2 separate regions of the Homo sapiens genome follow, and region 2 is linked to region 1. The links come from fine-mapping of genetic effects on gene expression. A gene starts in region 1. The other region holds a variant in brackets. All regions are shown on one strand. Distances are between the middles of the regions.

Region 1 (15,316 bases):
TCCAAGCACATTGGGAGGCCGAGGTGGGTGGATCACCTGAGGTCGGGAGTTCGAAACTAGCCTGACCATCATGGAGAAACCCTGCCTCTACTAAAAATACAAAACTAGCTGGGCATGGTGGCACATGCCTGTAATCCCAGCTACTCAGGAGGCTGAGGCAGGAGAATCGCTTGAACCCGGGAGGCAGAGGTTGCGGTAAGCTGAGATCATGCCACTGCACTCCAGTCTGGGCAACAAGAGCGAACCTCCATCTCAAAAAAAAAAAAAAAAGAATGTGACTCTATTTGGAAATATAGTCATTGCAGTTGTAATTAGTTAAGGTGAGTTTATAGTGGAGTAAGGTGGACCCTAATCCAATATGATTGGTGTCCTTATAAGAAAAGAAGAGACCCAGAGACAAAAACGCACTAGAACACCAGGTGATGATGAAGGCAGGGATTGGAGTGATGCATCTACAAGCCAAGGAATGCCATGAATTGTGGCCAAGGTCAGAAACTAAGAGAAAGGCATGGAACAGATTGTCCTCTAGAACCTTCAGAAAGAGCATGGCCCCATCCACATCTTGATTTTAGATTGCTGGCCTCCAGAATGGTGAGAAAACAAATGTCTGTTGTTGCCGGGCGCGGTGGCTCATGCCTGTAATCCCAGCACTTCAGGAGGCCAAGGCAGGTGGATCACAGGTCAGGAGACCGAGACTATCCTGGCCAACATGGTGAAACCCTGCCTGTACTAAAAATAGAAAAATTAGTTGGGCATGGTGGCAGACACCTGTAATCCCAGCTACTCTGGAGGCTGAGGCAGGAGAATTGCTTGAACCCGGGAGGCGGAGGTTGCAGTAAGCCGAGATTGCACCACTGCATTCTAGCCTGGTGACAGAGCGAAACTCTTTCTTAAAAGACAAATACGTAAATAAATAAAAAATAAGTATCTGTTGTTTTAAGCCATCCAGTTTGTGGCAATTTGTTAATGACAGCCTTAGGAAACTAATACCAGCACTAATCATAAAAGAAAAAAACTGATAAATTGGACAGTATCCTAATTAAAACCTTTTACTCATCAAAAGACACTTATATTAAGAGGCCAGGTGTGGTGGCACACGTAATTCCAGTACTTTGGGAGTCCTAGATGGGCAGATTGCTGAAGCCCAGGAATTCCAAATCAGCCTGGTCAACATGACAAAACCCTGTCTCTACAAAAAATACAAAAATTAGCCAGGCATGGTGGTGTGTGCCTGTAGTCTCAGCCACTTGGAAGGGTATGGGGGGCTGAGGTGGAAGGATCACTTGAGCCCAGGAAGTGGAGGCTGCAGTGAGTCGTGTTCATGCCACTGCACTCCAGCAGCCTGGGTGACAAAGGGAGACCTCATCTCTTAAAAAAAAAAAATAGACAAGCCAGAGACTAATAAAAAAAATTCATGATACAGATATTTGACAAAGGCCTCTCATATCCAGAATATGTAAAGGAATGTTAGAAATCGATAATAAAAATACAAACAGCCCAATGGAAAAGTGTGCAATAAATTTGAATAGACACTTCACGAAAGGTATATAGACAGCCAACAAGCACACAAAAATTTGCTAGTATTATTAGGCATGAGGGAAATGCAAATTAATACCACAGTGAGATACTATTTCATATCCATTGAAATGGCTGGCACATAAAAGATTGACAATACAAATGCTCGTGAAGATATGACGCAAAGGGAACTTTCATACATTGCTGTTGGGAGTCGTCCTCTCTTTGGAGAACTACACGGCAGCTTTTTAATAAAGTTAAACATATACCTACTATATGACCAGGAATTTTGCTCATCAGGTATTTATGTACCCAAAGAGAAATGAAAACATACACCCACAAAAAGATTTCAACAGGAATGTTCATAGCAATCTTATTCATTACAGTGTCCAAACTGAAAATAACATATATGTCCATTAACAAGAGAATGCACTGAACAAATTTGGTCTATTTGCATAATATAACAATACTCAGCAATAAAAAGGAATGACCTGGTGCAAACAATGTTGGCGAATCTTGAAAACATAAAACTAAGTAAAAGAAGCCAGTTTAAAAAAATACGTACAGTGTGATTCCATTTGTATGAAAAACTATCATTTGCAGGTGGATTTTGAGGAAAGGGCAGGAGTGATGGAAATATTCTTGATCTTGTTTTAAGTACTTAGGTGGTTACCTGAGTGTGTGTGTGTCTGTGTGTGTGTGTGTGTACATACACATGCACGAAGAGAGAGAGAGAGTCAAAAATCATTGAACTGCATTTTTTTACTATGTGAAGATTCTGATTAACCTCTTGTCACTGGGATTTTTTGTGGGTATAGCTGGTATTTTTTTTCTACAGTGGCAGACCTACTAATACATTAGTCTAAACCTGTTTATATGGCTGTTTCGGTTCTACACAAAGAAGATCCCATTATCATGTATTTATTTGGCAATATTATCAGTCCAGAAATTATTAAAATTTCTCTTTTTATTATGTCTTATTTATGTAAATTATACTTTTAAGATTCAAGCTATTGCTTGTGTATTACCTTTTTTTCCCACCTACAACTCCCATTCTCTTCCTTTAGAGTTGAGTATGCTGTTAAACAAAATAAATGTAGAAATATAGAATGGCTCAGAAAACACATTGAAGTGAAAATACAAGATTTGTGCATTTCATTGTATGTCAATTATACCTCAATAAAAAGAAGAAATAAAAATTTGTGGTGTTCTGCAGTATCAGGATCAGGTGGTGTCTTGGTATGTGTGGAGGGCTTTATTTATATCTTCGTATCTCTTTAACCTTCCTAAACAACCACAAATAAACATAGAATCTAAGATAAAGCCACAAATATTCCATGTAAGCAGCTAAGTGAAAACCGTGTTTGCTATTCAAATGCAAGCTTTGGTGAAGTTTCAGAGCCCTCACTTCCAAGCAGATTTCATCCTTAAGCCTTTCCTGTATGAAATTCCAGAGCTGTCGTTGTTGTGCTCTTTGCTTTATTCTGCAAACAAGGTAACATGGGCAGCTACACATGTCCTAATATACAGCCGTATTTCATTCTTTATAATGACAGCAGAGTATTTCACTGCATAATCCCCTAATGATGAACACTTAGTTTGTTTCCAACTTTTCAAAATTACAGTTGGTGCAAGCATATCAGTAATATAGGAATAAATTCCTAAAAGTGGAAAGGCTATCTCTAGGGGTATATACATGTAAAACTTTTTTTTTTTTTTAAGAGAGTCTCTTTCTGTTGCCCAGGCTGGAGTACAGTGGTGCAATCTTGGCTCACTGCAACCTCTGCCTCCCAGGTTCAAGCGATTCTCCTGCCTTAGCCTCCCAAGTAGCTGGGACTACAGGCATGTGCCACCACACCCTGCTAATTTTTGTATTTTTAATAGAGACAGGTTTTCACCAAGCTGGCCAGGCTGGTCTTAAACTCCTGACCGCAAATGATCCACCTGACTAGGCCTCCCAAAGTGCTGGGATTAAAGATATGAGCCACCGTGCCCAGCCCATGTGAAACATTTTCATAGATGTTGCCAAACTGGTCTCCAAAAAAGATTGAACTCATCTCCCTCCAAGAGTATATGAGAACACCTATTTTCCCCGATCATTGCCAGTGCTGAGCATTATCAGTCTTTTTTTAAATCTTTGCCAGACTAATAGATAAAATAAACCAACAAACGTGTCATTGGCTGTTTTAATGTATATTTCTTTAATTATGAGTTAGGTTAAGCATGGTTTAAAATCCAATGTTTTAATCAGTTACTATCACAGAAAAAGACCAGATGTGGGGAGGAATAGAAATGGAAAGACATTGAAATATAGACTTTTTAGCATTCGGGCCATCAGTGAGTATCACTTGTCTGGACAAGCAGGCAAGGAGGAAGCTGTCAAACTTGTTAAACTAGTTGACAAAATCAATGTCATGTTCTCTAGGCTGTTGCATTTGAGTCTGTAATTCTTTTTGACAGTCTGTCATGGCCTTATTACTTTGATTGCCAATTCTTGATGCCAACATTACATTGTGTTTATAAGGGGAAAGTAATCTAAGAATCCTTACAAAACCCTGATGATATATAATAATAGTTTAATGCCTGTGTTCCAATATTGTTTTTTTCACATCATGATAAATTATACAATGTTGTAAGGTATTTCTTCTGAGACAGAAGATCAGTGTATAGCTATTGCCCCTTTCTGCTTCTGAAGAAACATTATTTACAGTCTAATAGACTAAACAATGAATAACTGTAATAGTAGAGACCACATAGAATAGCAACATCTGGTAGGCATCCTGGAGTAATGGGTGGGGAGGGTCGTTATAATTTACCTCTAGGTGTGTCTAGTCCTCTGATTCTCCTTTGTGAAATGCCAAGTGTTTTTTCAATCATCCTCTGCTGATTTTATGGGCTTCATTATAATATATCTTTTAATCAATTGCCAGAATAACAGATACCATTAGTGATTCTTCAGAGGTTTTTCATCTTGGAAATACTAATTATATTAGGCTATCATCTGAAATTTCACAGTACTGAAACCACCTTTGCAAAATTATAACTTAGGAAATTAAGACAGTGAAAGAAATCTGACCTAATCAACTCCGTCTTGCTTCTAACCTTTAAGCTGTCCTTGTTCATTCCTGGGTGTAGGCCAAACTAACTTTGGGAAGGAGTTCAGTTCATGGTTTGACTGAAACAAAATTGAAAATACCCCTTTCCCGAAAAGACCCCCTTCTTGCCTGGGATCAGTCTGTCTTTTCAGGACTAACAAGTTAGCTATAAGATTAGAAATTACAATTTGGGGGTCATGCAGCCTCTGGCTCCAAGAGTCTGAATCTCCCCAAATTGCTTCTGGGGATAACATCACTACTGTAAAACCTAAAATCAGTGCCCAAGATATTTTGCAGTCCCTGAGCTTGATGGATCAGCTGACACCACCCAGACTGATAATCTGGCTCAACCAGTTCTGCCATCCACCCAGGAACAGAAGACAGCAAGAAAACCTAACTTCCACCCCCTATGATTCCATCTCCAACCTGACCACTCAGCACTCCCCACTTCCCAAGCCCCTACCCACCAAATTATCTTTAAACACTCTGATCCCCAAATGCTCGGCAAGACTGATTTCAGTAATAACAAACTTCGGTCTCCTGCATAGCCGGCTCTGCGTGAATTACTCTTTCTTCATTGCAATTTCCCTGTCTTGATAAATTGGCTCTGTCTAGGCAGCAGGCAAGGAGAACCCATTGGGTGGTTACAGTACTTTCAACTTTCTGAAGTGTTTTATGTCTATTTTATGCCATTTTAAAGTGAAATTGAACTTATTAAATTCTGCACTAAGAAGGGACAGCCTATAGGAGTTGTGGGTGGCATATCCCCACACATATGAATCAGCTATAATGATCGCTAAAAAACAAATTTAGGGCTGGGTGTGGTAGCTTACCCCTGTAGTCCCAGCACTTTGGGAGGCTGAGACGGGCAGATCACCTGAGGTCAGGAGTTCGAGATCAGCCTGGCCAACATGGCGAAGCCCCGTCTCTACTAAAAAAATACAAAAATTAGCCAGGTGTGGTGGCACATGCCTGTAATCCCAGCTATGAAGGAGGCTGATGCAGAAGAATTACTTCAACCCGGGAGGCGGAGGTTGCAGTGAGCCGAAATCGCATCACTGTGCTCCAGCCTTGGCAACAAAAGTGGAACTCCGTCTCATAAATAAATAAATAAATAAATAAATAAACAAACAAATTTAGGTACTAAACCAACACTTAATCATGTGCAAACTTGCCTTTGTGTGCTCCATTATTTTGCAGTTTTTGAGAAAAGATTTCACATATCCTGATTTTTCAGTTACATACTTATTCCCATCCATTAAAAAAGTTTACATGACAGCTTTAATTTGTGCCAAACATGTGAATTGCTTGGGTTAATGGATTAGTAACTTATTTTTGTTTAAAAAAAAGTCTAAGTCTTTGAGAAAATGATTCTTTTGGAAAGTGTATTTTTTTTTTTTTTTTTTTTTTTTGACACAGGATCTCACTTTGTCACCCAGGCTGGAGTGCAGTGGTGCAATCATAGCTCACTGCAACTCCTGAGCTCAAGGGATCCTCCTGCTTCAACCTCCCGAGTACCTGGGTCAAATGTGCGCCACCACTTCTGGCTAATTTATTTTTATTTTTGTAGAGATGGGGGTCTCTCTATGTTGCCCAGGCTCCTCGGCTCAAGTGATCCTCCCATCTCTGCCTCCCGAAGTGCTGGGATTACAAACATGAACCATTGTGCCCTGTCGGGAAAGTGTATTTTAAAATACTTATCATGGAATACTTGGTGAAATACTTCATATAGTTTTATTTTGGGGAGAAATATTACTAAGGTGAAAGTGGCTGCTGGATTTAGTCTCTTAGAGATTCATATTGTGTTATGATAAATCAAATCTTCCATGAAAGTCTCATCTCTTACAGTTCTAGGATCCAAAGTAACCTGGATAGGAAATAAATAATATGAAGCTATAGGCAGCGAAGAATCTTAATTATAAAAGCAAAATATATTGTGTAATCACAAAATAATGAGCCTTCTTTTTCTTTTTAAACATCAAAAAAAAATTTTAAATTCACCTTTACAACAATAATTCCCCAAGAGGACATTTTTCTTGTAAGATTATAGCCCAAATGGAGTAGACCAAGTAAAATTTAATTACATTTCTTAAAAATTATGGCCAGGCGTGGTGGCTGAAGCTTGTAATCCCAGCACTATGGGAGGCCGAGGTGGGTGAATCACCTGAGGTCAGGAGTTCGAGGCCAGCCTGACCAACATGGAGAAACCCCGTCTCTACTAAAAATACAAAATTAGCCGGGTGAGGTGGCACATATCTGTAATCCCAGCTCCTTGGGAGGCTGAGGCAGGAGAATCACTTGAACCCGGGAGGTGGGAGGTTGCAGCGAGCCAAGATCGCGCCATAGCACTCCAGCCTGGACGACAAGAGCGAAACTCCGTCTCAAAAAAAAATTTTTTTTCCCCCTCATTAACTATGGTTATTCTGAATATAAAGTGTATAGGAGAGGCAGGATAAAGTCTTTTTATCGTTATTAATTTTAGAATAATAAATGGTGTCTAGCAACCTCCAAAAGTAGCCAATTATTATTTTTTAATAATAATGTTTACAGATTTTTACATACTCGGCGATGTTTTAATCTATTTGAAAATTCAAACTAATTCAAAAGAAAGCTGAGCTCTATTTCCTTTGAAACACAGTTGCAGTACCTGATTCCTGCCATTCCTGAAATACCTGGGAAACCTCTCCTTGGTTCAATTACATGACTCAACTCACCCTGCTTAAACCAGTATGAATTGTACTGCAGCCTAGATTTCCTAAAACAGATCTTCTGTTCATTTTTCCACCTCTGTCCTGCACTGAAACTTTGGATTTCATAAAAACAAACAAAAAAAGGTTTATTTAAAATCACACTGGCATTTATGAGGCTCATCTCTGCCATTTCTTTTTCATTCTTTGAATCTTAGCAACTCTCTTAAATAAAAGGAGAACAGATGATGCAAAAATAACTGACTTTTTCCCGCCAAAAGAGAAAGCATTTTTAAAAAGAATGTGAATTTCAGGCCCAGAAGAATGTGAATTTATCTATAGCAGATCCTCGAATAACATTTATTTCAATGGTGTTTCAACACTGATGAGGGAAGAAAATTATTATACTTCCCAGCCAGGGCCACTGTGTATGTGGAGTTTGCATGTTCTCCCTATGTCAGCATGTTTCCTCCAGGTATTCTGGTTTCCTCTCACATCCCAAAGATGTGTATGTTAGGCTCATTGACTTATCTAACTGGTCTCAGAATGAGTGTGTGTGTGTGAGTGAGCACGCTCTTCAATGAAATGGCCTCCTGTGCTGGGTTGGCTCCTGCCTTGAGCCCTGAGCTGCCAGGATAGGCTCCAGCCACTCTCAACCCTGAACTGGAATGACTAGGTAAATAATTATCTTATTTGTTTTTATTAGTCTTTCTTAAATATATATATTTTTATTAATCTTTCTTAAATATATATGACATTTCTTATATATATTTATTAAATATATATTAAATATATTAAGAAATATCTTAAATATATATCTTAGATATTTATTATATATATTAAATATATTAAGAAATATCTTAAATATATATCTTAGATATTTATTAAATATATTAAATATTTATTATTAAATATATATTTAATAAATATCTGATATATATTTAAGATATTTCTTAAATATATATATTTAATAAATATATATATAGCTCACGTTTATTTCAATGTTTAATAGTAAAGGTGTTTTGGTGTTTATTTACAAGTTTGGTAATGTTTTTGTGACCAGAAATATGTTGTAAGAACTTAACTCTCATATATATCAATTAGACAATGGTAAAATTGGTTTCCTTGTAAGTCATTTTGTTTTAGGTTGCAGTTTCCAAGACCCTACCGACAGACATTAAGTGAGGACTTATTGCACTTAGCTTGTTACCAGCTGTTTGGAGCAAGTACTGTTACTAGTGGAGTCATCTTTCCCTCTGGGGCAAATGGAGCCACTCACCACCATTTACTGGGTATGCATCCCCCAATTCCTGTGAAAGCAGAGTTGGATAATTAAAAGAATGGGTGAAGTGGGCATAGTGGCATGAGATTGTAGTTCCGGCTATTTGGGAGGGTGAGGTGGGAGGACAGCTTGAGCCCAGGAGTTGGAGATTAGCTTGGGCAACACAGAAGAATGCGCTAATGAATTAATTAAACAGTGGGTGAGCAGGAAAGGTGATAGGAATTTAGGTCTGATTTAGACACGGAGGGTATAAATGGACTACTGTTAAAAAAAATAAAAAAGAGGTCTAGTTCTTTGCATATTTATTATTGCTCTGCCTAATTTACAGAGTTGAGGCGAGGAATTTTATTTAAGTAAGTTACTTATTCAAGTAAGTTTATTTTTTTATTTTTTGAGACATGGTATGACTCTGTTGCTCAGGCTGGAGTGCGTTTGCTCAATCATAGCTCATTATAACCTCAAACTCCTGGGCTCAAGCGATCCTCCCGCCTCAACCTGAGTAGCTGGGACTACAGGCCCATGCTACCATGCCCTGCTAATTAAAAACAAATTTTTTGCAGAGATAGGGGTCTCACCATGTTGCCCAGGCTGGTCTTGAACTTCTGGTCTCAAGCAATCCTCCTGCCTCGGCCTCCAATGCATTGAGGTTACAGGTAGAGCCACCACCCCCAGCCTCAAGTTAAGTTTAGAAGATAATCACCAATCAAGCATTTTAAATAGCAGTGGCTTGAATATACATAGTAAAAACACAAAATAATAATAATGATAATAATGGCAAAGCTACTCCATATAGTGAAAAGGGCAATGAATTGGGAAGTCAGAAATCTCTAGCTCCATCCATTTATGACAAAACTTAGACTTTATATGTGCTAGATGCTGGAGACTCCAAGGTGAATACTAAACACTTGCTATGGGAAAACAACTTGGTCTTTTCTTGAATCTTCTTCTCACTTGGCAAGTGGAAGCTCACTTGGCTTTGTTTTGAATTAGTTTGAATTAAAAATGTTCAACTAGACTGAAACACATCAAATATATAAAATTCTAGTACTTCATTAAAACGCAATTGACTACTTTTGGAGGTTGCTAGGCATTACTATTATTATAAAAATTGATAAAAGAGGAAAAAATAAAGCATTTATCCTGCCTTTCCTGCATAATCTGTATTTCAGGTAACCAAAGCGTTGTTGAGAGAAAAAAAAAATGCAAAATACATCACTGAGATTAGTTGATGAGCTAAAACTTCTGATAAACGTATCTGTTTTGTCTACCTCAGAGGACACTTGAGGAGAGGCTGTCAAGGGATTAAAGGGAAAGGAAGCACTTGGTGGGCTGCAAAAACTCTCTTTAGGTCTAAGGTCGCATTCTGGCTCCAGAATGCCAGGGCTGCTGGGGCGGGCAGGAGCTGACAGCTCTTCCCGTATCTGGGGCTCACAAGCATCAGGTGCATGGCAGGTCACCCTCCCGGCCAAGGGTGTTAAGCAGGCTCGGTCTGAGTTCTGGGTGCGCCACGCCTGCCTTTCTGGTCTCTGCAGCAGCAACCCCAGCACCCTCAAAGCCTAGCGACCGAGAATGAGAAACCGTGAAAAAAACACGCAGCGGCAGGCCACGCCCAGAGTAGGCCTGCGCGCGCGCGCGCGGCCTCCCACTTCCGGCCACGGGAGCTGGGGGCGGGGCCGAGCGCTGCGCAGGGCTCCGTCGTGTGGCGAGCGGCTGCCCCCTGTCTGCGACGAGCGGCGGGACCCGCGGGCCGCCTCGCAGACTGCTACCCCGCCGCGCTCGCGGCCGCCTGCGTCCTCCTCAGCAGCCCTGCGACAAGTCCCGGCTCCTGCTGCGATTATATTATTTTTATTTTTAATTCACAATTTCCCCTGGCCCTCAAAGCGTTTTTTTGTTTGCGGGCAAGAGGGAGTTAGAGGAGGGTAAAAAAGACTTTGAATGTGAGGCAAAGATGGAGGAAGGCGTCCAGGCCCCAGACTGGGACAGTGATGAAACTGTGATAGAGGGTTCAGTGACGGAGAGCGACCTGGAAGAAAAGGAGCTGCCCTGGAGAAGGTGACCATCATTAGGGCCACAGTGCCTGAACCCTCGCGCCAGGGCGGCCCAGGTGCCCTCTGAGGGGGTCAGAGTTTTGAGTGGAGATCGTGACCAGAACATGTGCTTGTGGGCAGGATCAGAGCCTTGTGGGGCAGCCGTGCCTGAGCTGAGAGCTTGTAAATAAGCAAACACAGTCTGTTCCCACCTACCCCCAACCAGCTAGGGATAAAATGAGGTTTGTACTAGGTGGCTTTATAGCATTTTTCAAAAGGCTTTCCTTTTGGGGGCTTTAAGTCTTTTTGCACAAGCAAAAAAGATCTTGGGTCTGAACTTAACTGCATTTTGTTTCAGGAGACTTCATTTTGCTTCAAGAGACTCGTAGCTCAGTTCTAGGAAAATGGGTAACAGTTTCTCTCAAGAAAAGAATGTGTGATGGGGAAACTGGTCCCTGCCAAACTGGAAACGAATAGTTTTATACGAATCCAAAAAAGTCGGTATTTCAGGTTATCGAAACCTTTCTCTAACATATTCTCTGTGCTAGACACAGGGAAAAGAGGGCAGGGATGAGGCCACTAGGTCTGCTTCATATGTGCTCAGGGCTGTGTCTGGGACTTAAGTTGGATCGTACACAGAATTAGGTCATTCTCCTTTCCCTCTCTCTCTTCTCCAGGATTCTCCTGCCCCCTTTCCTCATCATACCCACTTGCCAGTTCATATGATCAGAAAGACAGGTTTCTTTGAGTGTTAGCCTTTTCACTATACAGCAGTTCCTTACAAGGGGGACAGCCTTTAGCACAGAGTTAAGAAAAGAGAGAAAAAAGGGGGATTCTGTCCACACTTTTCAGGCAATACCGATCCCTTTTCCCAGTTCCTCTGGTAGACACTTTCTCTTGAGTTTTATGTTCCCCAGTTGCCATGGTTGGTGTCTGCTCTGAGGCTAGGGCCAGCCTTGGGGCAGGGCTGGGAGGTGAGAGAGAAAGCAACATAAAGCCCTGGGCTTTGTCCTATACCTTCTGGCATGCAGGGGTCATTTTCCTTGGTCTTCTGGATAAAAATAGGTTTACTGTCTGTGCCCACTGGATGGTTCAAAGCTGAAAGACAAAAAAGAACCAAAAAACCGAAAACAAACTGAAACTCGTCAATAAATGGGTTGTTATTAAGATTTCAACTTCAGTCCCCAATCTACCTGCTATTGTTTACTTTTCAAGGTTCTCGAGTAGTTTTTAAAAAATATTCATTCGGAGTTTTTGGTTGTAATGAGAAACAGGCAGAGGTTGCTATGAGCCAAAATGACTCCACTGCACTCCAGCCTGGGCGACAGAGTGAGACTCTATCTCAAAAAAAAAAAAAAAAAAAAAAGTACCAGCAAGACTTTCTGTTGAACTAGACAACTGATTCCAAAGTTTATATCGTAAAATAAATAAGAGCAATTAGGAAAAGTCTGAAAAATAAGAACAATAAGGAGGTAATGACCTATAGGATATTAAAATATTTTCTGATATAAAATATTTTAAATATGATACTGGCACATAAAGTGACAGATCAATAAACAGCATAAAAACCCCCAAAATAGAATCACATACATATGGGAATTTAGTGTATTACAGAGGTGGCATCTCAAACCAGCGAGGAAATGATGGGATTTTTCAAAAAATGATATTGGGATGATGAAGGATGTATGTAGAAAATAGTTTAGTTGAATCCATATTTCACACTGTACTCCAAAAAAATTCCATATGAATCAAAGATGTAAATGTTAAAAAAAAACCAAAAAGTATTACAAGAAGCCAAAAAGGGATTCTTTTATAACTGTAGAGGAAGAAAGATATAATTATAATACAAAACTCAAAAAATTTCAATTATCAAGATTACAAACACATATACTCTTTGACACAGTGCTTCTGTTTTTAGAAAATAGTGTTACCTCTGTCTTCCAACATATATACACTTAGAAAATATCTCTGAAAGAATTACAAAACAATCAAACACCTTGGTTGCCTGTGGGAAAGAAAGCTTATATTTGAGGGGACAGAGAGATATTTTACTACATACCCTATTATATTGTTTGTTTTGGAGACTGGATCTTACACTATTGTCCAGTCTGGAATGCAATAGTGCAGTCATAGCTCACTGAAGCCTCTAACTCCTAGGCTGAAGTGATCTTCCTGCCTCAGCTCCCTGAGTAGTGAGGACTATGAGCATGAGTAATCAGGGCTAGTCTATACTGGTTTTTGAATTTTGAACCATATAAATATATTGTCTATTCAGGAACACTATAGGAAACATGAGCAATAAAAAGAAGCATGAATGAGATAGAAATCTGACCTAATTCTACTTGTATTAAGACTTTGGTATATTTTCTTCCAGCTTTCTATGTAGGCTTTTGTGTGTGCACCTATAATTCTTTTACAAAGTTTGAATCAATTTGTACAAGTTTACAGTTTTCGCTTAACATTATTTTTAAACATTTGCAATGTCATTAAAATTCTTCCCTAAATTATTGATAGTTTTCTGTCATAAAGGGATAATTTGTTGAAGCATTATATGATTTTAAAACAAAACATTTAGTTTGTTTTTAATTTTTTGTTATTGCAAATAACTCTGAGATAATTTCCTTAAGCATAAATTGTTGGGGTTTTTAAAAATAATTTCCTTAGGAAAGAATCTGGACTATTTTTTTTTTTGAGACGGAGTCTCATTCTATCACCCAGGCTGGAGTGCAGTAGCATGATCTCAGCTCACGGCAGCTTCCATCCACCCAGGTTCAAGCCATTCTCTTGCCTGGGTCTGCTGAGTAGCTGGGACTACAGGCGCATACCACCATGCCCAGCTAATTTTTGTATTTTTAGTATAGATGGGGTTTCACCATGATGGCCAGGCTGGTCTCGAACTCCTGACTTCAAGTGATCTCCCCACTTCAGCCTCCCAAAGTGCTGGGATTACAGGCATGAGTCACTGTGCCCGGCCCTTATTGGTACTTTTATTGGCATAATGTTAAATTTTTACGTTTACATATTAGAATATTAACATATTTATATTAGTTTTTTATTTTTAATTAAGATTTTAGTAGGGGCAGAAATTCTGCCTTTCTCCTCATAGGGCCCTGGTTAAGCCTAAGAATTAAATATGAAATAGATTAAATACTTTAAATATTAAAACTTATGTAAATTTAAAATAAGTTTTATGGGACACAGGAGTCCTCATAAGGAAATGAAGACCCAAAGAAATGGCAAAACCTGGTTGGGCATGGTAGCTGATGCCTGTTATCCCAGTGCTTTGGGAGGCTGAGGTGGGCAGATCACTTGAGGTCAGGAGTTCGAGACCAGCCTGGCCAACAAGGTGAAATCCTGTCTCTATTAAAAATACAAAAATTAACCGGGCATGGTGGCATGCACCTGTAGTCCCAGCTACTCAGGAGGCTGAGGCAGGAGAATCGCTTGAACCTGGAAGGCGGAGGTTGCAGTAAGCTGCGATTATATCACTGCACTCCAGCCTGGACAACACAGCAAGACTCCCATCTCAAAAAAAAAAAAGGAAAAGAAAAAATTAAAAAAAGAAATGGTAGAACCTATGTGCTTTTGTATTGGGTTAAACAAAGAGAGGCAGTTGTGGAAAAGTAACTAAATTATGTAGGGAGGCTAAAGGAAGACAAGAATTATTTTAACAAGATCTGTTTGTACAGAATTCTCTTGGCTATTGAGAAATGTTTCTTTTCTCCTTCTACAGGGAGGGCATCTTTTACATAGGAGTTTTTATCTCCTGTTTTCAAGAAGGAAAAGGGAAGCATCTGCTGTTTTTCAAGTTGCCTTTAGCTCAGAGTAATCCGTATGTCACAGTGGCTTATTTTGGGGTGGCATATTCTGTCACCCTTCAAGGAGGAATTTACATAAAGTTCACCTTTTTAAGAGTATGGTTCTGAGTTTTGACAAACATAATTGTGTAACTACTATCACAATCAAGATATAGAATAGTGTCATTATCCCCCAAAATTCTTCCATACCCCTTTTGTGTTATTTTTAAATTAAAAAAAAAAAACACACAAAATTTGGTTGGGTGCAGTCGCTCACAGCTGTAATCCCAGCATTTAGGGAGGTCGAGACCTGAAGGTCAGGAGTTCGAGACTAGCCTGGCCAACATGGTAAAACCCTGTGTCTACTAAAAATACAAGAATTAGCTGGGCCTGATGGCAGGCACTTGTAATCTCAGCTACTTGGGAGGCTGAGGCAGGAGGATCACTTGAACCTGGGCGGTGGAGGTTGTAGTGAGCTGAGATGGTGCCACTTCATTCCAGCCTGGGTGACAGAGTGACTGTGTCTGAAAAGAAAAAAACAAACAAACAAAAAACCTCACAACATTTTAAGAGATAAACTTACCCTTTTAGGGACATTAATAGATAATTTTACTTTTTGGAGGAACATCAGTAGATGGTTTACTTCTTGGAAAAATGCACTATAGCTATGGTATAATTCATATTCTAATAATGCATTTTTGATCCTTAGTAATGGTCAGTAGAAAAGAGCCAAGAAAATGCTTTTCTTCTTATAGCAGGAGCCTGTACTCACTCTCACAGAGGGTGTGTTATAATAGAAAAGTTAAGGATTAGAGTCCTTTTCATTGCCAACTTTTCTGATGCTGAGAACTATTAGAAAGTTGTGTGTGTGTGTGTGTGTGTGTGTGTGTGTGTGTGTGTGTGTTTTGAGACA
Region 2 (15,316 bases), 640 kb after region 1:
AGACAGAATCTCTGTCACCTAGGCTGGAGTGCAATGGTGCAATCTCGTCTCACTGCAATTCCACCTCCTGGGTTCAAATGATTTTCCTGCCTCAGCCTCCCCAGTAGCTGGGATTACAGGCGCCTGCCACCATGCCTGGCTAATTTTTGTATTTTTAGTTGAGACGGGGTTTCACCATGTTCGCCAGACTGGTCTGGAACTCTTGACCTCAGGTGATCCACCTGCCTCGGCCTCCCAAATTGCTGGGATTACATGCGTGAGCCACCGCACCCAGCCTCTACTCCCTACTTCTATGAGATCAACTTTTTAAGATTCCACATAAATGAAATCATGTGGTATTTGCTCTTCTGTGCTTGGCTTATTTTACTTAATGTCTTCTACATTTATGCATGTTGTCTCAAATAAAGGATTTCATTCTTTTTATGGCTGAATAGTATTCTGTTGTGCATATATACCACAATTTTTTAATACATTCATCCATTGATGGACACTTAGGGTGATTCCATATCTTGGCTATTGTGATTAGTGCTGCAATAAACATGGGAATGCAGATACCTCTTCCACACACTGATTTCCTTTCCTTTGGATATACACCCAGTGGTGGGATTGTTGGTTCATATGGTAGTTTTATTGTTAACTTATTGAGGAACTCCATACTGTTGTCTGTAATGGCTATACAAATTTACATTCCCACCACAGTGTACAAGTTCCCCTTTATCCACATCCTCGTAACATTTGTTTATTTTTTGTCTTTTTGATAGTAGCCATTCTAACTGGGGTGAGATGATATCTCATTGTGGTTTTGGTTTGCATTTCCCCAATGCTTAGTGATATTGAGTACTTTTTCATAACCTGTTGGCCATTTGTATAACTTCTTTTGAGAAATGTCAGTCTTTTGTCCATTTTAAAGTTAGATTTTTTTTTTTTTTTTTTGCTATTGAGTTTTTTGACTTTCTTACATATTCTGGATAGTAATCCCTTTTTAGGTGCATAGTTTGTGAATATTTTCTCCCATTCTGTTGATTGCCTCACCACTCTGCGGATTGTTTCCTTTGCTGTGCAGAAGCTTTTCAGTTTGATGTAATCCTGCTTGTCTATTTCACTTTTGTCACCTGTGCTTTTGAGGTCTGATTAAAAAAATTATTACCCAGATCAATGTCATGAAGTATTTCCCCTATGTTTTCTTTTAGTAGTTTCATAGTTTGGGGTCTTATATTTAAGTCTTTAGTCTGTTTTGATTTGGTTTTTGTAAGTGGTAAGAAATTGGGGTCTAGTTTCATTCTTCTGCATGTGGAGATCCAGTTTTCCCAGCACCATTTATTGAAGACACTTCCTTTCCTCAGTGTGTTTTCTTGGTGCCTTTGTCAAAGCTCAGATAGCTTTAAATGCATGAATTTATTTCTGGGTCCTCTATTTTGTTGCATTGGTCTGTGTCTGTTTTTCTGCCAGTACCATGCTGTTTTGCCTAGTACTGTTTTGTCGTATATTTTAAAGTCAGTTAGGGTGGTGCCTTCAGCTATGTTGTTTTGCTCAAGAACGCTTTGGCTGTTTGGGATATTTTGTGGTTCCATGCAAATTTTAGGATTGTTTTTTCTATTTCAGTGAAAAATGTCCTTGGTGTTTTGATAGAGATTGCATTAAATTGGTAGACAGTTTTGGGTAGTTTGGATATTTTAACATTATTAATTCTTCTAATCAATGAACTCAGGATAGCTTTCCATTTATTAATGTCCTGTTCAATTTTTTAAAATCAGTGTTTTATAGTTTTCACTGTAGAAAAATTAGACAACTTTCTTGGTTAAATTTATTCCTATGCATTTTATTGTATTTGTAGTTTTTATAAATGGGATTGCTTTCTTGATTTCTTTTACAGATAGTTTGTTGTTGGCATATTAAAATGCTACTAATTTTTTCCTGTTCTCCTTGCTTCTCAACAGATGCCACAGAATTTTAACATAAACATAATATTTACAAAAGCTATGTCACAATGGGGAAAATATTTTTGATGGGATGTTACATAAAAATAAAATAGCACTAGGAATTGTATGTCGAGTGTTATCCTGCAACCTTACTGAATTCATTTATTAGTTCTAACAGGCTTTTGGTGGAGTCTTCAGGGTTTTCTATATATAAAATCATGTTTCCTGCAAACAGGAATAATTCAACTTCCTCCTTCTCAATTTGGATGTCCGTTATTTTTTTCTCTTGCCTAATGTCTCTGGCTAAGACTTCTAGTACTGTGTCTTGCTCCTGATCTTTGAGGAAAAGCTTTCAACTTTTCCTCACTCAGTACGATGTTAGCTATGGGTTTGTCACATGTGTTTATTGTGTTGAGATATGTTCCTTCTACACATATTAGGGTTTTTATCATGAAGGATGTTGAATCTTATTAAACACTTTTTCTGCATGTGTTGAGATAATCATATGGGTTTTATCCCTCATTCTGAATGTGATGTATCAGGTTTATTGACTTATGTTGAACCATCCTTGTATCCCCGGGATGAATCCCACTTTATCGTGGTGAATGATCTTTTTAACGTGCTGTTGGATTTGATTTGCTAGTATTTTGTGGAGGATTTTTGCATCTATGTCCATCAGAGATATTGGCCTACAGTTTTCTTTTTTTGTTGTGTACTTGTCTGGTCTTGGTATCAGGGTAATGTTAGCCTTGTAAGGCACAAACTAAGACAAAATACCATCCTTTCTTTCTTTTTTTTTTTTTTGCCCAAGAAATTAGTAAAAGTTGCACTTAGTAAATGGTGAGAAAGTGAGAGAGAGAGCGAGCTGACAAGGATGGGTGCTTTCATACATTGTCAATGGGAGCATAAATTGATATACTATTTGAAAACACAATTTGAACTATATACATTTTAGGAATCTTTAAAAGTTTTATACCTTCGACCCAATTATGCAACATCTAAGAGTCCTTACTATGAAAGTAATCCCACTGATTAAAAAAACTTCTAGTTAAGGCTGGGCATGGTGGCTCATGCCCATAATCCTAGCACTTTGGGAGGCCAAGGTGGGTGAATCACCTGAGTACAGGAGTTTGAGACCAGCCTGGTCAAGATGGTGAAACTCCATCTCTACTAAAAATAAAAAAACTAGCTGGGTGTGGTGGTGTGTGCCTATAGTTCCAGTTACTTGGGAGGCTGAGGCAGGAGAGTTGCTTGAACCCAGAGGTGGAGGTTGCAGTGAGCCAAGATGGTACCACTGTACTCCAGCCTGGGCGACAGAGTGAGACTCTGTCTCAAAAAGCAAAACCAAAACAAACCAAAACAAACTTCTAGTTAAAAGGAATGTTAATGGGGGCCCTAAATGTCCCACCACAGAAGACTGGTGAGGCAAACAATGACATATTCACTTCATGAAATATTGTACAATTATTTAACATAATGTTTACAAAAGGTATGTCACAACAGGCAAAATGTTTATGATGGAATGTTAAGTAAAAATAAAATATCATTCAGTTGTATGGGGAGTTAAATCAGTCATATTAAAAAGAAGAAAAAGTAAAACCCAAAAATAATGTGTAAAAAAGGCTGAAAAGAATTATATCCAACAATAGGCTATGGTTTTATTTGGCTAATGATGTACTTTTTTTTTCTTACTTTTCTAATTTTCTTTATAGAACAAAACCTACTTCTAAAATCATAATTCATTTATTAGTTCTAATAGGCTTTTGGTGGAGTCTTCAGGGTTTTCTATATATAAAATCTTGTTGCCTGCAAACAGGAATAATTCGACTTCCTCCTTTTCAATTTGGATGCCCCTTATTTTTTTCTCTTGCCTAATTTCTCTGGCGAGACGTCTAGTACTGTGTTAAATAGAAGTGGTGAAAGTGGACATCCATGTCTTGCTCCTGATCTTTGAGGAAAAGCTTTCAACTTTTCTTCACTCAGTACGATGTTAGCTATGGGTTTGTCGCATATGTGTTTATTGTGTTGAGATATGTTCCTTCTACATATATTTAGGGTTTTTATCATGAAGCGATGTTGAATTTTATTAAACACTTTTTCTGCATTTATTGACATAATCATATGGGTTTAAAACCTATCCAATAATAACATACTAAGTAGGCTAAGATAAGTGAATGGTGCAGCTCCTATTCTGGTGTCAGATGAAAAATCCTACCTTTAAGGGAAATGGGTGAATTTTCCAAAAATTCTCGACATTGACATGGTTTAAGCTGAGTCATTACAATTAAATATGAGGTATAAAATGGACAATTATCTAGTTGTGTTTGTCACTTTGTATCCTTTTTGGTTGCCTGAGATGGTTCTGTTTACCAACCACCAGTGAGCCGCCATTTACCCCATGTTGTGTCAGTAAGCCAGACTCCTGGATACCTGCACAGACTGGATTCTCAAGCCACTCCTGGACCATTCTGAGAATTAATTTCTAGAAACTCATTATTGCCTGTCTTCCTAAGGGCCCAATTTCATCAAATCTGATATTTCCTGTCCTCTTAAAATTATGCCTACAGCTATCAGTAACATCAGAAGTTACAGCTAGAAAAATTAAAGAGATCTTAGCTATAATGAGCAAACTAGTCTGAGGATCTTCAAGGATGGGAGGAGAAAGGCATTACCAGACAATAGTTTTAGAAACTCCTTTTGCATTGCTTGATTGGAGAAAGGCCTGGCTTTGCCCTTCTCCCTTTCTCCTGGCTAGTGCCTACTCATCCTTAGGTCAAATTATGCATTGTCACTTTCTCATTCATGCTTTCCTTGACTCCCAAACCAGGATAGACCTTTACACTTTTCACAGCACCCTGTTCTTCTTCTTCCTAGGACTTGTAATTAGTACTTATTTTATTTACTTATTTAGACGGGCTCTTGCTCTGTTGCCCAGGCTGGAGTGCAGTGGCTCAATCATGGCTCATTGTACCCTCGACCTCCTGGACTCAAGGGGTCCTTCCACTTCAGCCTCTGGAGTAGCTGGGACCACAGGCACATGCCACCACACCTGGCCCAATACTTAATTTTTAAACCTTTCTTCCTGCTGGACTCTGAGCTCAAAGAGAGCAGAGCTCTTAATCTATCTTTTTTTAAATCATGTCCCCAGTACCAAGAACAGGAGCCTGGTATGCCCTAGGTGCTGAATAAATATTTGTTTAATGAATGAATTTTCCAGTGTGAAGTCTACTAAAGAATTAGTAAGATCTACCAAAGAACTGTTGGCACAAAACGAAGTAGTGGTGGAGTTGGAACTATAACTACTAAAAGCTTTATTATTTTTCTTTCTTCTTTAACATTTTTATTGTTTTTATTTCACATACGTGTGTGTGTGTGTGTGTATTCATATTATTTCTCTGGCACTGAGTTGAAGAAGATTGGACTTGGCTTTTCGTGCTTGAGGTTGTTGGAAATATACTTTGGTGGTTTCCTCTACTATGAGAATAGCAGACATTTGGAACCCTTCCCAAAGTACAATCTAAATACTCCTTAGACAACTTCATCCACTTGAGTGGTGCTTTTATGTAAAGTTTAGCACAACCTAAGAAATGCATGTGAAGGCATTCTATGATTTGGCCTGTCTATGAATCCTGAGACCCCAAAGTCTCCCTTTCCTAAAGTTCACAATAAATCACTTCACTTAGCACATTTTTTATTCTGCCACCTCCACTTCCCTGCCTTTTTAGAAGCAAAATTCTTGGAATTTATCTTACAGGCACAAATCACCTTGTAATTCTTTGCACTTACTTAGTAGCTATTGAGCATGTAACTATAGAGCTTAACAATTATGATATACTGTAATCATGCAAAGATTTTAATCTTTCAAATTAGATCTCACCTCCACACTGGGGAAGAAAAGGGAATTTACAGGATAATTAGCTCATGGGCTAGTTGGCACTTCCAGTCATTGTCAGGAAGTCCTCTGCATGAACGGTCTTAAGGTACCATTTATTTTTTATTAAGTGCCATTTGTTAAAACTACTTTGCATGCTTCAAATGAAAGAAACTGGAGCAAACGCTTTTCACAAGCTGAGCAGCCTTTTTCCTGTAATGAACGTTGGGCAGTGGTGGATAAATAATTGATCCTCCACATATAACAAGAGGCACAAGTCAAAATGTAAAAGTAATGGCTGGACACGGTGGCTCACGCCTGTAATCCTAGCGCTTTGGAAGGCCAAGGTGGGAGGATAGCTCGCGGCCAGGAGTTTGAGACAAGCGTGGGCAAAAACATAGCGAGACCCAATATTTGATTAAAAAAAAAAAACAAACCATGAAAAATTAACCAGGCGTAGTGGTGCATGCCTGTAAGTTGTAGCTACTCAGGAGGCTGAGGCATGAGGATTGCTTGAGGCTAGGAGTTCCAGGCTGCAGTGAGCTGTGATTGCACCACTGCACTCCAGCCTGGGCAACAGAACAAGACCATTCCTGAAAAAAAAAATTAAAGTAAGATGCCCCACTGAACTCTGCTGTGCCCCCTACACCCACCGAAAGAAGCCAGATTTGTATGTATTCTTTATGAATTGGTTTCACAGAACTCTGGGGAAAGAGAGTTTTGAGTTGCAGAGCTGCCTACCCTTACTCCAAACCAGAGGCGCTCCACCCTGCTGACAGGAGTGGATTGTGCACGTCTCAGTCTGCATTCAGTGACCATGTTTGTAACTTGAAATTGGCCATGGTCGGGTGCAGTGGCTCATGCCTGTGATCTCAACACTTTGGGAGGCCAAAGTGGGCAGATCACTTGAGGTCAGGAGTTCGAGACCAGCCTAGGTGATATGGCACAACCCCATATCTACAAAAAGTACAAACATTAGCCAGGTGTGATGGCACGTGCCACTCCAGAGTGAAACCCCATCTTGAAGAAAAAAAAAAAGAAATTAGCCACGACGGCACTAATTACACCATGAAAATCTGGCTTGTTATACATTTCCAGCACATCAATCTTAAACCAGTTCCAAAGTTACTTCTAGCAGAGAGAAGGAGAGAGAAGAAAGTACAAAAAGAGTAATAAAGGGAGGAGAGAGATAGTTGGGAAGACACACACACACACACACACACACACACACACACACA[CAT/T]CCAGTAAAACAACCTAACAGAGGAGTCCCTGGCCCAGAGCAGAGGCTTAACAAATGTGAATTTCTCCTTTTCTTTGGCAGTAGAGACGAGGAATGAGGACTAAGGGGCTAGTACAGCAGTGAGTGGCTGTGGGGGGTCTTTATGCCTTTTGAGTCAATTGTCTCTGATAAATGTGGCCTTTCCAGGGTTTGACCTACAAACGTGAGGAGGCCGAGAGGAATGTGGTCAGGAAAGGTGGGCGAGTTAAAAAGAGAGGTGGTGCTGTTCTGCATCGGCTCCCATGGCAGGAGACTAGCCAGAGCAGGGAAATATGCAGGAAATTCAGCCGTAAGTGCACAGGGATTGCTGGGGACTGTGTTCAGGGCTTTGGGAAGGCTCAGAGCAATTCTTTCCTAGAGATGTAATTGAACTTAGTGATTTTTCAACTTTGCAATCTTATTAGAAGCCATAAACCATTCTTTATTCACTATGATAAAGAGAATCATCAGGATGAAATTTCATCACCAATCAAAAAGTATTCTTGTGAGCTTATTATGTGACTTGTCCTCAAGCTGGTACTGCAGAGTGCAAGAGAAAGATAGAGCCTTTCTGAGCTTCCATGTTTGCTAATGCATTTCTTTATATTATTATGAGTTCCATTGCCATCATCAGTAAAATTATAGTACTGCTAATAGAGATCCATAATAATAAATTCTCTGCTATGGTTTTACACTTATTCATCCTTAGAGCTGGACTCCATAGGTCTTGTTTCCATGGGTCTCATCAGGGGCAAAGATAATCCACAGGAAATGGTAAGAGAACAATTAATCGCTGGGCAGTTTGATAGTCATGAAAAAATCCAGTGTGATTTAGAGAAGGGAGGTAGCACTGTGGGCAGGTACTTTTTTTTTTTTTTTTTTTTTTTTTTTTTTTTTTTGACAGAGTCTTGCTCTGTTGCCCAGGCTGGAGTGCAGTGGCACAGTCTTGGCTCACTGCAAGCCCCACCTCCCTGGTTCACACCATTCTCCTGCCTCAGCCTCCCAAGTAGCTGGGACTACAGGCGCCTGCCACCAGGCCTGGCTGATTTTTTGTATTTTTAGTAGAGACGGGGTTTCACCGTGTTAGCCAGGATGGTCTCGATCTCCTGACCTCGTGATCCGCCCGCCTCGGCCTCCCAAAGTGCTGGGATTGATTACAGGCAAGAGCCACCACGCCTGGCCAGGTAATTCTTATTTTAAAATTAATTATTAATTTATTATTATTATTGTACAAATAGGGTCTTTCTATGTTCCCCGGGCTGGTCTTGAACTCCTGGCCTCAAGCAATCCTCCCATCTTAGCCTCCCAAAGTGCTGAGAATATAGGTGTGAGCCACTGAGCCCAGCCCAGGTAATTCTTAAAGACTATGTAATAGAGTCTTTCTGAGATTCCATGTTTGCTAATGCGTTTCTTTATATTATTATGAGCTCCATTACCATCATCAGTAAAGTGATAGTACTGCTAATAGAGATCTATAATAATAAATTCTTTGCTGTGGTTTTAGACTCATTCATTCTTAGAGCTGCACTCCAAAGCAGGACATATGCCAAGTATTTTAAATCCCTGCTTTCTACTCACTGAGTCAAGTTCAATACCTTGTCTCCAACTTTTTATCCTGTGAGTAGCAGAGCCAGTGGAAAAACAAAACAAAATAAAACACAAGCTTCTACATGTGATCACTGGCTCAAATGAAATAATTTGAAGACCAATATCAGATTTGAGGATAGAAGTTAGCCCAGGAAAGTTCCAAAATGCCAGAGGAGAAGAGAACAACCAAGAAAGTAATATATATGTATATATATATATACTTCTTGATGTGGAACAGATTTCCTCTGTGGACCTTCAGACAATAGGGAGGTATGAGGACCATATATGGAAAAATTGGAAGTCAAGATAAGTTGAGATTAAGGTGAGCACATGGGTTTCGGTCTCAGCAAGGAGCAATTCTAGGAATGTTTTAGAGATAGCGCCAGGCAGGCCAGCTGAGGAAGTGGCTATGGGAACTCAGCATAAGTTCAAGGGTCAAAGACAGCTTTTAGACTCGAGGCCTTGGGAACAAATTACAGGAAAGAAATAAAGGAAACAAAAAAGATATTTTTATTTTCCAAAGAAGAAATTTAACTGGAACAATATCAGAAAATATAGACAGAAAGGATTAGTGTGTTTTAAAAGTGGCAGAGAAGATGAACAGGGGAGAAATGTAAATTTAAAAGCAGTCATCATCATCAGAAAAATGAAGTATTTAGTATTTTGGAAAGTAGGAAACTTAAATATCAAAGTATAAAAGAAAATCTAAACCTGGAACAGCTCCAAAATTGAATGGGCAATACGTTTTAGTCAAACTATTCAGAGAATATAGGGCAGAGCAGATTTCTAAGACAGAGATATGTCAGTTGTTTCCTGTTACACTGTTGTGCAGACAAGTCATAGCAACTAGTTTGACCAAAAGATACTGTTAAGATGGTTCTTGGATTGACCAGATCACTGTGTCCAGGAGAAGATAGGGATTCAAATCCTGAATGCATTCATTCCATTTTTCATTCACTCATTTAACAAATACTTACTGACTGCCTACTTCAAGTCCGTCTCTGTGCCATTGGGGATATGAAGATAAGACACAAGCAATCCTTGCCCTTGGAGGGCTCTCTGTCAAGCAGACAAAACAGATGGCTTAGAAAATATGTAATTACAAAATAATGTAATGATGTGTTGTAATTAAAGAAAGTTAATAGGCAATTGCATTGCCTTTTAAAAAGAGACTCCCATTTCATTTCTGAAATTATATGTTGCTTACCCTACATAAGAGAATTACCCAATTCCTTTACATTGCTCTGTGGGGACTCTGAGGGCAAAGGAAGGCTATGTTAGAATCACTCGTCATCACGCAGAGAAAGCACAGATGTGACGGGGAGATACAAAGCTTGCCTCTGAAGGACATTTTTTGTTGGAGAAGCTTTCATTTTTATAGCATTCAACATAGTTCAATACTGAGCATCAGTGCTGTAAGAATACCAGCATTCTTCATCTAGCAGAGCAGTTCTTGCCAGATGGCCTTTCCATTTCGCACAATGACATATGTCATTGGCAAACACAAAGGCAAAATGCTCAGTTGAAAAGTCAAAGATTCAGTCAATCAATAGGTCATCTTGTTAAATTGAAATCAAATGAGAAATTTTATTAATTTTGGAATTGAAAAGACATCTTTTGTTTTTCCAGAGAATTAATTAAATGAGAGGTGTTTTAGGGGTATTATATGGACAACAAGCATACTTTTAGAATCTTGTTCAAGAAGGGGAAAGACAATACTTGTAAGCATTCTGGGTTGCGCTGGGGAGGTATACCACGTGGTATATACATGGGTGATAGGATTTGATCTGTAGCATGAATTGATGATACAGGAAGTTCTTTATCACAGGGTTTGTCTCAACTTCTGCCTCATGCCTTTAGCCTACTGGCTTCTTTCTACACAGTTATGGTGTGAAGAATATGCCATTTGTAAAGCCCAAATCAGAAATGATCTATGAACAGAAGCTGTGTGTATTCATACAAAATGATATTGAGAAACGGCCGGGCACGGTGGCTCATACCTGTAATCCCAGCACTTTGGGAGGCTGAGGTGGGCAGATCACAAGGTCAGGAGTTCAAGACCAGGCTGGCCAACACAGTGAAACCCGTCTCTACTAAAAACACAAAAAATTAGCTGGGCATGGTGGCACACAGCTGTAATCTGAGCTACCCGGGAGGCTGAGGCACAAGAATCGCTTGAATCTGGGAGGCGGAGGTTGCAGTGAGCCGAGATGGTGCCATGGCACTCCAGCCTGGGCAACAAAGTGACTGCGTCTCAAACAAATAAACAAAAGAGAAATGTTGCTTCAGGCTGGGTGAAGTGGCTCACACCTGTAATCCCAGCACTTTGGAGGCTGAGGCAGGTGGATCACCTGAGGTCAGGAGTTTGAGACCGGCTGGCCAACATGGGGAAACCCTGTCTCTACTAAAAATACAAAAACTGGCTGGGAGTGGTGGTGGTGGACCTGTAATCCCAGCTACTTGGGAGGCTGAGGCATGAGAATCGCTTGAGCCCGGGAGGTGCAGGTTGCAGTGAGGCGAGATAGTGCCCATGCACTCCAGCCTGGGAGGCAGAGCAAGACTCCGTCTCAAAAAAAAAAAAAAAATGTTGCTCCAGAACGTGTTTCTGAAGAGACATTTGATTGTCAATTGTGCCTAGGTTGGTGTGAGTCTGTATGAGCAGGCTCCAGCACACACTGCTTGAAGCTCAAGTTTATAGTAAGATTCTGTACTTAGTTTATTTTCATGGGGAGTGGTCGTAGCAAATGGAGATTACTGAGGGGAGGTATAAGACACTCTCAAGTTACCCCTTGGTGCTGCCCTTCTCCTGTGGTCAAAACTCAGGAGAAACTGAATACTATAAATCCCCCTCTTGAAAGAATCTTAATGTCCATGAGCATCTTAAGGGATCCAAGTTCTGTTCAACTGAAATGTAGCATTTCTCAAATTTAAGTTACCACCGAAACCTGCCCCATCACCCTTCTGCCATGTTGTTTCCCTACCAAAGTCCTACTGACATTCCAAGGAAATTGTGTTTCTTCAAACATGTTTGTGTGGGTACTCCCAAAAGACTTTTCAAAAACTACGTGTTCCCTCGTGAATATTTAAGTTAACAACTAAAATTTTTCATCATGGATTTAAAGACGTTCACTCTCTGTTAATAGAAGGTAGAAAACATTAACCATATTATAATTTGAAATAAGATTAGAGCTGACTATAGCGGAAATAAATATGATAGATTTGATAAAATAGATTTTAAGTATCTTTCTGAAACACTGAATCAGAATGAATTCAAATATAAATAATTTTACCTGTGGGTTTTATTTTTAAAAAGTTGATAATTGTAGGAAACGTTCCAGGAACATTAAATAATCAATGCCACAAATCTGTATGGCGGTTGATTATTTTGAATTCATTACCTCCAAAAAAGATCAAGGCTCATCCTAACAGAAAGAGCCAAGATGATGGGGAAAGACAGGAAGTCTGTGGGGTTAAGGGACTTTGATGACTCATTACCCTGCTACAGAAAGATATGGGATAGGTTAAGGGTATGACTTTTTTTTTTTTTCAAGTGTGATTATGTTTATTAGACAGTTTTAGAAAAGACACCATACAGAAGTTGAGGATCTAGACACTGATTCCCTTAGAATGATCCACTTAGCGTATGGTCCTCCGTAAGTCTGCGGACCGCGGGGATGTGAGTAGCTCTCTTTGAAGACGTCTGCCTTAGAGTTCACTTCTGGGTGCTGCTTCTGTCAGAGGCATGTGAACCAGAGCAACTCCATCTTGAATGGGTAAAATGAAGCTGAGACCTCCTGGGCTGCATTCCCAGATGGTTAAGGCATTCTAAGTCACAGGATGAGACAGGAGGTCGGCACAAAATACAGGTTATAAAGACCTTGCTGATAAAACAGTTTGCAGTAAAGAAGCCAGCCAAAACCCACCAAAAGCAAGATGGCGATGAGAGTGACCTCTGGTCGTCCTCACTGCTACACTCCCACCAGCACCCTGACAGTTTACAAATGCCATGGCAACATCAGGAAGTTCCCTATATGGTCTAAAAAGGGGCAGCATGAATAATCCACCCCTTGTTTAGCATATCGTCATGAAATAACCATAAAAATGGGCAACAAGCTGCCCTCAGGGTTGCTCTGTCTATGGAGTAGCCATTCTTTCATTCCTTTACTTTCTTTTTCTTCTTCTTTTTTTTTTTTTTAACTCATTTCGAATATGAGAGCACGACAGAGTCTTGCTCTGTCACCCAGGCTGGAGTGCAGTGGCGTGACCTCAGCTCACTGCAACCTCTGCCTCCTGGGTTCAAGTGATTCTCCTGCCTCAGCCACCAGAGTAGCTGGGATTACAAGCACGCACCACCACACCCGGCTAATTTTTTACATTTTTGGTAGATATGGGGTTCCACCATGTTGGCCAGGCTGGTCTGGAACTCCTGACCTCAAATGATCCTCCTGCCTCAGCCTCCCAGAGTGCTGGGATTACAGGTGTGAGCCACCGTGCCCAGCCTATTCCTTTACTCTCTTAAAAAACTTGCTTTCAGTTTACTGTACAGACTCGCCCCGAATTCATTCTTGCACAAGATCCAAGAACCCTCTCTTGGGGTCCAGATTGGGACCCCTTTCCTATAACACAGCCACAGAATTGAGCAGTGACATCTGAATTGGTCTTTTGCCTAAGTCTCTTTTTGGTCCCCAACCATTTAGTTCCATAGCTCCCAAACCTTTTCTCTGTACTATGAAGCAAATTTCACAGCTGGTGGGAAGGTCCCTCCACAACACGGCCTTTGCTGAACTCATGCTTTCTTCCCCTCTGCTCAACCCCTTTCCCCAGGAGCCCTTCGCTCCAGCTTCAGGCATCTATAGACTCTTGCCACTGTGCCTTTGTTCTCTGTCTGGGAATATTATTCTGCAGCTATCTGCTTCTTCTACCTATTGAACAGTTTGACTCACCTCTCTGGGAGGGCTTCTTGTTCAGAGTCTCTCTCCCTGTCCCCCTGTCCTTTGTTTCTACTTCCAGTGTATCTTCTATATCTGTGTGCCTTGAATTAGCATTGCCTGAACATGTATTGTCTCCTTCATTATGTTCACGTCCAGAGCAGCAAGGACTATACTGTATTCACCTGTGTGCCCTCCTAGCACCTAGCACAGTGCTGGATAAATGTTGGTTGGTCGACCTCACCTAGTTTAAAACCATTTGGAATACGAGAGGCACATGGATCTCCAGGAGGAATGTTGCTCATCCTTGTGCCTGGGGGACCTCTGCCTAAGGTGTTCGGCTCTTTGGCACTACCCATAGCTTGGGAAACCAAAGGAATAAAACATCTATTTTCCCAACCTACCCTAACTAAAGTGGCAGTGGTATGTGGGTGACTTGCAAGCTGGCTTATATTTATGGAATAGCTGTGAAATTTGCAGGGCTACCCTCAGCAATACAAAAGCAAATGAGTATCTCCTTTTATTAAGAGAAAAAAAAAAGTCTTCATGCCCAAAGCATTGTAAGGAAAAGAAGACCTTAGTTTCCCCTAAAGGGTTTAAAAAAGAATTTCCGTTTCTGTTGTCTGTAGTATCTGTGTGGCAGGTCCCTAATCTTTTCTTTTTAAAATTTCTCTCAAAGGATGGTTAAAGAGTCTTTAATTAACTATTAAAATGAGTGTTCTAACATGGAGGACAAGATTTAGAAAATCCCTTTAATTACTGGAACCAGATTTTCTCCTGATTTGTAAATGCCAGTTTACTCCCCAACCAAATTTGGCTTTAATTAAACAGGTGGGAGGCTGAGGGGGCGTGAGTGCTGGAAAGTGCCTTAATTTGCATCGGCCCCAGTTTCAATGACCCTACGGTTTACTGTTTAAACTGGAAAAACAAGCAAAATGAGATTTGCTTTCCAAACCAGGAACTCATAGAAATGAGACACACCCTTGCCACCTCCAATTTATTCAAATACCACTGCTGCAGGATTACCAGAGGGTCCTTCAGTGGTATGAATTTATGAAGGAGCCATGCTTATTTATTTATTTTTTAAAATCTCTCTAGATACATTAATGAGGCAAAACTAGGCTTATGGTTCTAATGACAAAGAAAGAAAAACCAGAGTTTGCTCTACCCCTCTCTCAATTTAATGTTTAACATTCAGTGCGGTGCACAGTTTGTTGAGAAAATAAGGTACATGTTTTGTCATTCCCCTTACGGATTTCAGTCAACACATGGAGGTGTTTGAAATGATCTGCTAATCCAGTTTTCTTTCCTTGAACCATCTGGTTCAAATTCTGTCTACCTGCTTGGGGTGCACCAGTCTCGTCTGCATGTACATATAAGGAAGTCACAACTCATTAACAGTTTAGGGAAAATCCCTGTGGAAATATACAACTTTACTATTGTGGTAGGTTTCCTCTTGGGAGCAAATTAGATAGGACTTTGATATAAACCAAAGAAACTTGAGGGTTTTTGGAAGACATGAGTGGTCCTGAAAAAAACCATTAAACTAATTTAAAAGCTTTTATTTTAAATGGTAACAAAGTTGTTGCCTAAAGTTATTGCTTAACATTAACTCACTCACACCATAGCTCAGCTGTACATGGTCGAGTGCAGTGAGTGATGTACAGAATGTGGCCTTACTAATTTCATCATGGGGCCCCGACCTAATTTCAGGGATGATCATCCCAAAATAATAATTCTGTGGCAGACATTT

Which allele goes with the higher level. Positions count from the first base shown, and alleles are read on the strand shown. Sizes are in standard deviations (SD) of each study's normalised expression.
With allele T in place of CAT in region 2, the expression in memory regulatory T cells of the gene that starts at base 10,336 in region 1 is higher (moderate effect, 0.69 SD a copy in Schmiedel 2018).

What was found. PIP is the estimated chance that this variant, and not a neighbour inherited with it, causes the effect.
Region 2: its variant is the best candidate, but not a certain one, in a credible set for the expression of ANKRD31 in memory regulatory T cells (Schmiedel 2018, PIP 0.86).

What each region holds. Positions count from the first base shown.
Region 1 is chr5:75,231,898-75,247,213 of GRCh38, reverse strand. It overlaps ANKRD31 (ankyrin repeat domain 31), which reads left to right and starts at 10,336. Exons shown (of 26, transcript NM_001372053.1): 1 at 10,336-10,631. The coding sequence starts at 10,528. It overlaps LOC124901006 (a long non-coding RNA gene), which reads right to left and starts at 10,176. Exons shown (of 2, transcript XR_007058823.1): 1 at 9,848-10,176; 2 at 6,326-6,477. RefSeq lists a silencer at 10,096-10,395 and an enhancer at 10,446-10,615.
Region 2 is chr5:74,589,018-74,604,333 of GRCh38, reverse strand. No RefSeq gene overlaps it. Among named protein-coding and RNA genes, the nearest start is that of ENC1, 44 kb to the left of the region's middle. RefSeq lists a silencer at 9,776-10,070 and a cis regulatory region at 11,949-12,309. The variant CAT/T (reference allele first, on the strand shown) is at 7,029.